2 separate regions of the Homo sapiens genome follow, and region 1 is reported to be linked to region 2. Evidence: microRNA targets listed by miRTarBase, many of them from high-throughput screens and not tested one by one. Region 2 holds a microRNA gene; the other region holds the end of a gene's coding sequence.

Evidence for each region. The annotated mature microRNA hsa-miR-4497 reads CUCCGGGACGGCUGGGC and lies in region 2 at 2,560-2,576, shown strand. An mRNA with a match to its seed (bases 2 to 7 or 8) in the 3' UTR can be bound and repressed. Matches are read on the target gene's strand: a 7mer-m8 pairs with bases 2 to 8, a 7mer-A1 pairs with bases 2 to 7 and ends in A, and an 8mer does both.
Region 1: miRTarBase lists MTPAP as a target of hsa-miR-4497. Seed matches in the 3' UTR shown: 7mer-m8 at 1,982-1,988.

What each region holds. Positions count from the first base shown.
Region 1 is chr10:30,309,978-30,314,044 of GRCh38, reverse strand. MTPAP (mitochondrial poly(A) polymerase) reads left to right here. Exons shown (of 9, transcript NM_018109.4): 9 at 74-4,067. The coding sequence ends at 436. Among named protein-coding and RNA genes, the nearest start is that of MTPAP, 37 kb to the left of the region's middle.
Region 2 is chr12:109,830,791-109,834,857 of GRCh38, forward strand. It overlaps MIR4497 (microRNA 4497), which reads left to right and starts at 2,558; the gene lies at 2,558-2,646. It overlaps TRPV4 (transient receptor potential cation channel subfamily V member 4), which reads right to left and starts at 2,608. Exons shown (of 16, transcript NM_021625.5): 1 at 2,560-2,608.

The DNA of each region.
Region 1 (4,067 bases), not on the chromosome of region 2:
ATTGAGTTAACTGTTTTTATATTTAAGCCCTTCATGTACTTACTCATTTTTTCTTCTGTGTAATAATCTATAGGGAAGGGAGCAAAACAAACCTGATTCTTCTCCTCTGTACATTCAGAATCCATTTGAAACTTCTCTCAACATAAGCAAAAATGTAAGTCAAAGCCAGCTGCAAAAATTTGTAGATTTGGCCCGAGAAAGTGCCTGGATTTTACAACAGGAAGATACAGATCGACCTTCCATATCAAGTAATCGGCCCTGGGGGCTGGTATCCCTATTGCTACCATCTGCTCCAAACAGAAAGTCCTTTACCAAGAAGAAAAGCAATAAGTTTGCAATTGAAACAGTCAAAAACTTGCTAGAATCTTTAAAAGGTAACAGAACAGAAAATTTCACAAAAACCAGTGGGAAGAGAACAATTAGTACTCAGACATGATGGCTGCTACATTGTGTAAAGAACTGGGCTTAGCCTATCAAATGGTCTGTGGACTTACTTGGAAAAACTGATTTGAAACTTTCACAGATCTCAGCTTTCATCTGATGTCACTTTTCATGATCTTCTCATTGGCCCCCTTAACCTGGTCTGAAGTTCTGGGATGTTTTCAGTTTGATCAGTCTGATACTCAGTGGCACTTTATTAAAACATCAGCTGTGGAGTGTGGCGGTGCACACCTGTAGTCCCAGCTGCTCAGGAGGCTGAGGCAGGAGGATCTCTTGAGCCCAGGATTTTGAATCCATCGTGGACAACATAGCAAGATTCCATCTCTAAAAAAAATGAAAATAAACATAAGCCACAAGGAATGGGTGAAAGATTATTGTAATGTGCTTTAACTAAATAGGTAAATATACTAAACAAATGCTAAAACTCAGTTTTAGGATGAAACCATTGTTGATATCCACATCAGTCCCTGTTTAGAAAACATTTAAAATGACTTTTAGTTATGTACAGTACGTTGGCAATGAATACATTAAGCTTCAAAATTTGGTAGTGCTCTCGAATATGTATATTTGTATTTTTCAAGCGAAGTTCTCTTATTCACATATAAATTAAAGTGGGTTGGTACTGATATCAAAAAATGTTTATGTTTTTAGAACAGACATTTCAGTCACTGCATTCTTAGGTATTCCAAACCAAATATGATGACATCAATAGATTGCATTTTAAAAATATTGTTTGATTTTTCTATTTTCAAAAATAAAATTCTGTTTCTAACTAAAATGTGATATTCCCAGTATTCCTTCACATCTCTTTTGAGAACTCCCCTCTTCCTGCAGGAAAGAGACATATTTGTCTCTCAGTATATGCAGAAAATTGGTTCCAGGACCATCCACGTACACCCAGATCTGCACACACTGAACTCCTTCAGTCCTGTGGAGCCCGTGCATGGGAGAATTCCACCTTGCACATAAGCAGATTTTGCATCCTGTGAAAGTACTGTATTTTCTTTCTTTCTTTTTTTTTTTTTTTTTTTTTTGAGACAGAGTCTCGCTCTGTCGCCCAGGCTAGAGTGCAGTGGCGCAATCTCGGCTCACTGCAAGCTCTGCCTCCCAGGTTCACGCCATTCTCCTGCCTCAGCCTCTCTGAGTAGCTGGGACTATAGGTGCCCGCCACCACGCCCGGACAATTTTTTTGTATTTTTAGTAGAGACAGGGTTTCACCATGGTCTCGATCTCCCGACCTCGTGATCAGCCCACCTCAACCTCCCAAAGTGCTGGGATTACAAGCGTGAGCCACCATGCCTGGCCGAGAATACTGTATTTTCAATCCAAGTTTGGTTGGAAAAAATCTGTGTGTAAATGGACTTCGCAGTTGAAACCCATGTTGTTCAATGGGCAACTGTATATTGAAATTTAATTTCCATTACATTCTCTGTGGAGCAACTTTTTTGCTTTGTTTCGTTTTGTTTCTGAGACGGAGTTTTGCTCTTGTTGCCCAGGCTGGGGTGCAATGGCACAATCTCAGCTCACTGCAACCTCCGCCTCCCGGATTCAAGTGATTCTCCTGCCTCAGCTGGGATTACAGGCGCCCACCACCAAGCCCAGCTAATTTTTGTAGTTTTAGTAGGGACAGGGTTTCACCATGTTGGCCAGGCTGATCTCGAACTCCTGACCTCAGGTGATCGCCCACCTTGGCCTTCCAAAGTGTTGGAATTACAGGCGTGAGCCACTGCACCTGGCTTCTGTGGAGTAACTTTCTATTTAAGAAGCAAGTAAGGCCTGGGCATAGCGGCACATGCCTGTAGTCCCAGGTACTTGGGAGGCCGAGGCACAAGGACTGCTTGAACCTGGGAGGCAGAGGCTGCAGTGAGCTGAGATCACAGCACTGTACTCCATCCTGGGCGACAGTGAGACTCTCTCAAAGGAAAAGAAGCAAGTAGTATAGTGTTTAAAAACAGACTTGAGCGAGACTGGCTCAATGACAAGTTACTCAGTCTCTTGGGGCCCCTGTTTGATCTGTAAAATGGGGATCATGATCAGATCAATGTGAGGATTAAGCGAGGGATGTAGGAAAATGCTAGGTCAGTGCATTTTCCTGGCGCGAAGTAAATGTTACTTCTCTTTAACTGTTGCCTTTCGGTGTTTGTGGTATGTAATTACCTTTTTTGCTACTCAAAATTCAGATTTAGAGTTTGTAGTACTTTAAAAATTTTTCCCATTTAAATTTTATGTCAGAAATTATAATGGGTTCTGCATGGGATATTTTAAGAAACTCAGCATTGTTATGAAGCAAATGAATTCTGTGTCCTTGTGTCTGTGCTATTGGATTGCACATTTGACACCAACAAATATCAGTGTTCTGTACAGGCGATGTCTTTAAAAGCCATTTTTCATTTGTTCTTTATTTTGTTGGGCTAGAAATCCATATTGATTTAAAAAGCTTAAAAAGCATAAACCACTTAAGGGTTTCTAAATGAAATTTTTTTTTCTGTTCACAGATATTTAGTCAGATATTTTCTTTTTTAGGTTGGTGCTAGGTGTAATATGGTTATTTAAGCACATAAAGTATGTGTATGGGTTAGCATTTTCTTTTCTTTTTGGTAATTTGTAGGACAGCCTTGACACTAGGCTGTTTTACTTTTCAGAATCAGATTTAATTATGTGATTAATTTTAAATCTACAAAGACTTGTTTTTTGTTTTTTTTTTTGAGAGCAAATCTTGCTCTGTCACCCAGGCTAGACTGCAGTGGTGCGATCTCGGCTCACTGCAACCTCTGCCTCCTGGGTTCAAGCGATACTCCTGCCCCAGCCTCCCAAGTAACTGGGATTACAGGCGCCTGCCACCATGCCTAGCTAATTTTTGTATGTTAGTAGAGACGGGGTTTCACCATGTTGGCCAGGCTGGTCTTGAATTCCTGACCTCAAGTGATCTACCTGTCTCAGCCTCTCAAAGTGCTGGGATTACAGGTTACAGGTGTGAGCCACCGCACCTGGCCTACAAAGACCCTTTTTTTTTTTTTTTTTTGAGATGGGTCTCCCTCTGTCACCCAGGCTGGAGAGTGCAGTGATCTTGGCTCACTGAAACCTCCACTTCCCGGGTTCAGGTGATTCTTCTGCCTCAGCCTCCTGAGTAGCTGGGATTACAGGTGCATGCCACCACACCTGGCTAAGTTTTCTATTTTTAGTAGAGATGGGGTTTTACTCTGTTGGCCAGGCTGGTCTCGAACTCCTGACCTCAGGTGACCTGCCCACCTCGCCCTCCCAAAATGCTGGGATTACAGGCATGAGCCACCACGCCTGGCTGCAAAGACCTTTTAATACACAGTTTTAAAGTCTGTTCAACTGAATATAGACTACAGACAAATATATTTTCTCATAACTTTAGTGTATCACAACCCAGATTTTTAAAATATTTTTATTACGTGATAGTGATAACTAGCAATTATTTGTCATTGCTGTTTCTTAATTAAAAATAATTGCAATGTTAAGTAAAACTTTTTTCAAGTTTTTTTCTTCTATAACTATTACTAGGCTTTCATTCAGTAGCTTTCACCTGTAATGAGTTTTACTAAGTATGTGAAAGTAATTTTGATAGGAGACTACCCAGATCAAAACGATTTCAGCTATAG
Region 2 (4,067 bases):
GAAGGAACTCAAAGGACTTTGACCATCTCAAAAGTATTTGTTCAGACAACCATGCCATAGATACTGACTGAGCACCTACTATGTGCCAGGCACATGAGGCTCAGTCTTGTGTGTTTCCTTCCCTCCTACATCTCCTTCCAGCTGCCGCTCTCCACTCAGAGCTTGGATGACTTCCCCAGCCTTGGGGCCAGCCTCTCTGTCTGAGCTCCTCCAATCTTTCCCACTCTGCAGCCACAGGGACCTTTCTAGAACAGACAAACAACCGTGTCACTCCCAGGCAGGACTTCTGGGCCTCTGGGTCTGATTTAGCTCCTGCCTGTCTGATCCCTCACCCTTTCCAGTCACGTCACAAACTCCAGACAAACAGAACTATTTCTCTGCTCTATAAACCCCAGGTGTAGCCACCTGGTAACAGGTAAAAGTCATATCTCTGCTAGTGCCATTCTCTTTGCCTGAATACTCTTTCCTCTACTTCTGCATTTATTCTTTAAGGTGCGGCTTAAACACTACCTTGACCAAGCCCTCGTGGGTCCTTCCTGGGCCAGTCCTCCTACCCTACGGCATTCTCCCCTGACCCCATCCATTCCACAGCATACATTTACTAAGCGTCGGCCATCCATGCACACCTTGCTAGATGCTCACAAGTCAGGTGTGGGAGCTCCTCCCCGGGGGGCCACAAGGGAAAATCCTTCTTGCCTTCACACGCCTCAGGCTACAGCGAAGCTGGGATTGGAAGCATCTCACTGCTCCAGTGCCCAGCCCAGAGCTGGCACAGGTGAGCTTGCAGAGAGCATTTGCTGGAGGAGGGAGTAAGTGGCAGAGGCCCAGTTGGCACCAGATAAGGCAGGAGGAACCTCCACAGCCCCTTCCCCAGATATAAGGTATCTGGGTTTCACCTGGGGAATCCCAGCCATCCTCACCGGAGCTCATGTGAAACATCCCTCCTGGGGGCATCACACCCTTTTTGTTCAGGCAACCATTCCCTGGTTACCTCCATTTCAAAACAGCCCCACCTTGATCTTACAAAGTGAACCGCCCTGAACTATGACTGCCATTTGCCATTTGTGTCTGGGACCCCTTCCGCGTGCAATTCACCAATCAAGGTGGGTGTCCAGGCTTTCTGGTTCCCATCATTCTTCAAACAGAATGAACTAGAGAAATGTGGAAATGGCCAATTGACTTTTTTCACCCTCTTTGTTAAGAAAATGTTTGGGGCAACGACAACTGGTTAAACATTGATGGCAGCCAACAGTGGCTGTGCCAGGTTCCTGGAAGGTCATCGGTCCTCACGACAGCCCTGGGGGCTTGCCCTCAGGCACCCCAGTATTACAGAGGAGAGAACACAAAGGCTCAGACAGCTAAGGGACCAGGCCAAGGTCACACAGCAGGGGACTGCAGAGCACACCCCGGGCCCCACACAGGCCCGCTCTTAGCCCCGCAGATAACCCAGGCCTGACCTTTCTACCCTTGTTCCCCCAAAAGCCCACCTCGTCACCCTCCTCAGGAGCCCGGGGAGTCCCGACTTACCCTCTGCCCTTGCTCCGGAGCCAAAGTGGCAAAGCTTAAATCCTCAAGCGGTTCTTAGCATCCCAGAACAAAGCTCCCACAGGGTATCTGCCTAACATTTCAGGGGTTCACGGCCCCTCTGCCCCCAGCAGAGGCTCTTGTTTTAGAAGCTGAGCCAGAACAGCCACAGGGCCCACCTCTGCCCTGCCACTTCCCAAGCACCCCGGGGGCACCAGGCCCTGTGTGCAGAGCTGGCCCCAGGACAGGCCACCTGGTGTGGTGGGAAGGGCTTTGGGGCTGGATAGTCCCTGGGTTTAAATCCCAATTGTCTAGATCCCCGACCTAAGCCTCAGTTTCCCCATCTGCAAAACAGAGAGGACAGACAGAGGGAACAGCTGGGGCAGGCTGGAGCAGTGGGTGGCTCGATGAATGCATCTGTGGTTGGTGTTTCCAGGCAAGCGGGGAGTGTGGGAGTCTCTCTCTCCCCCACCCCCACCCCCGCTACCCACCCCCAGGAGCCACCCGCCCCCGGGACGTCCTGAGAGTCCAGGGCAGAACTAGAGGTTAAAGATTTTCATGCCTCTTGGAGGAAACAGCCGTCTCTCCGGGACTCAGTAACCAAGAAGAAGCCTTTGGAAGCTCCAGACTCCAAATTCCCTCCGACATGCTCAGGGGCCAAGGGCAAACCTTAGGTCCCCCGAAATCCCTCTTCCAAGTCTCCTAAGGTGGGCTGCAAGGCTCCGGGCCTTTGGTTCCCTGGCTTGGGGTCTCAGGGAACCGAACCGCCCTCCCCCCAGACCTGCTACCCCAGGCCCCACGTTGGTGCCCATTTCACAGGTGATAAAACCGAGACCCAAAGAGCCGGTGTCCGGCCCAAGGGCACTTAGCTGAGAGGCTGGCGCCTGCGGAACCTGGTGCCTTCCGTCTCCCGCGCCCCTGGCCCGCATTTTGGAGCCTCGGGACCCCCCGGAGCCGGACGGGCCACGGAGATGTCCCCAGGGGCGCGAGGGGACCTCGGCTGAGCCGCCCCTCCCGGGCCCGGGCCCCACTTACCTCCGGGACGGCTGGGCGCCGGCGGCCGGGAGATCCGCGCTTCCTGAATCCCGGCCGGCCCGCCCGGCGCCCGTCCGCCCGCGGGTCCCTCCTCCGCCGGCTCAGGTTCCAGCCGCGCGCCGCCCCCGGCCAGCTCCCCGCCCACCCGCCGGCTCGCGGACCCCGCCGAGCGCAGGCCCTAGAAGGGGCGGCCCCTACTCGCACCCCGCCCGCCCAGCGAGGGCCTCCCCTGCGGGGGAGGTGCAGGGCCAGGGCCTCAGTTTCCTCGCCTGGAAAATGGGTGTCGCGATCCCCGGATAGAGCGGCAGACGGTCTTTGGAGAGGGCTCTAGTTGGAATCGGCTCCGATTCGATCTTGCTCCGTGACTTCGGGCCGCCCTGGGACTGTGTCCTAGTCTCTAAATGGGCGTCCCGGCCCAGTCCTCCACGTGTTTGCTCATTCATTCATTCAGCAGACAATTTCCTCCGAGGCGTTGAAGGAGGTCCCTACCCTCGGGTATGGCCCATAGAGATGGTTCAGGGGTAAATAAATGTGAGCTGCTCTCCTTGGTCTTCACCCAGTGCTTACTGCGAAGCCTGCCTCGGAGTAGGCCATCAATGTTTTGTTGCTGTTGTTTTTGAGACAGGGTCTCACTCTGTTGCCCAGGCTGGAGTGCGGTGGCGTGATCAGGAATCACTGCAGCCTCAACCACCAGCGTTCAAGCAATCCTCCCGTATCAGCCTCCCTAGTAACTGAGACCACAGACGCCTACCACCATGCTTGGCTAATTTTATTTAAATTTTTTGCAGAGATAGGGTCTCACTATGTTGCCTAGGCTGGTCTCAAACTCCAGGCTCAAGCGATCTACCCACCTCGGCCTCCCAAAGTGCTGGGATTAGAGGTCTGAGTCACCGTGCCTGGCTCAATGCGTTTTTGTTTATTTTTTTTATTATTATTATTATTTTTGATACATGTTCTCCCTTTGTCACCCAGGTTGAAGTGCAGTGGCATGATCACGGCTCACTACAGCCTCAAACTCCTGGCCTCAAGAGATCCTCCCACCTCAGCCTCCTGAGCAGCTGGGAGTACAGGCATGCGCCACCACACCCCACTAATTTTTATTTTTTTGTAGAAGGGGGGGTGGGGGAGGGCAGCCGGTCTACAACTCCTGGCCTCAAGTGATCCTCCCACTTCAGTCTCCCAAAGCACTGAGAGTATAGGCATGAGCCACCACACCTACCCATGTATTTTCTTTTATCAGATAACAAAGGTGGGCCCCAACACATAGCCATACCCTCTACCCAGCACTGAGTCCACTTGAATACCTCCACAGGATGGGCAGCTCACTTCCTCCAGGGTGGTTGGAAAGCCTAGCAGGCCCACAGCTTGGCTCTGTGACTCTCTAACCCAGCAGCCCTATGCAAGTCCCTTCACCTTTGTGCCTCAGTGCCTCTACATCCCCCTGTAGAGTGGGGCATACAAAAGTCCTCACCTCACAGTCGCAGTGAAGATGCTGGGAGCATCCAGGC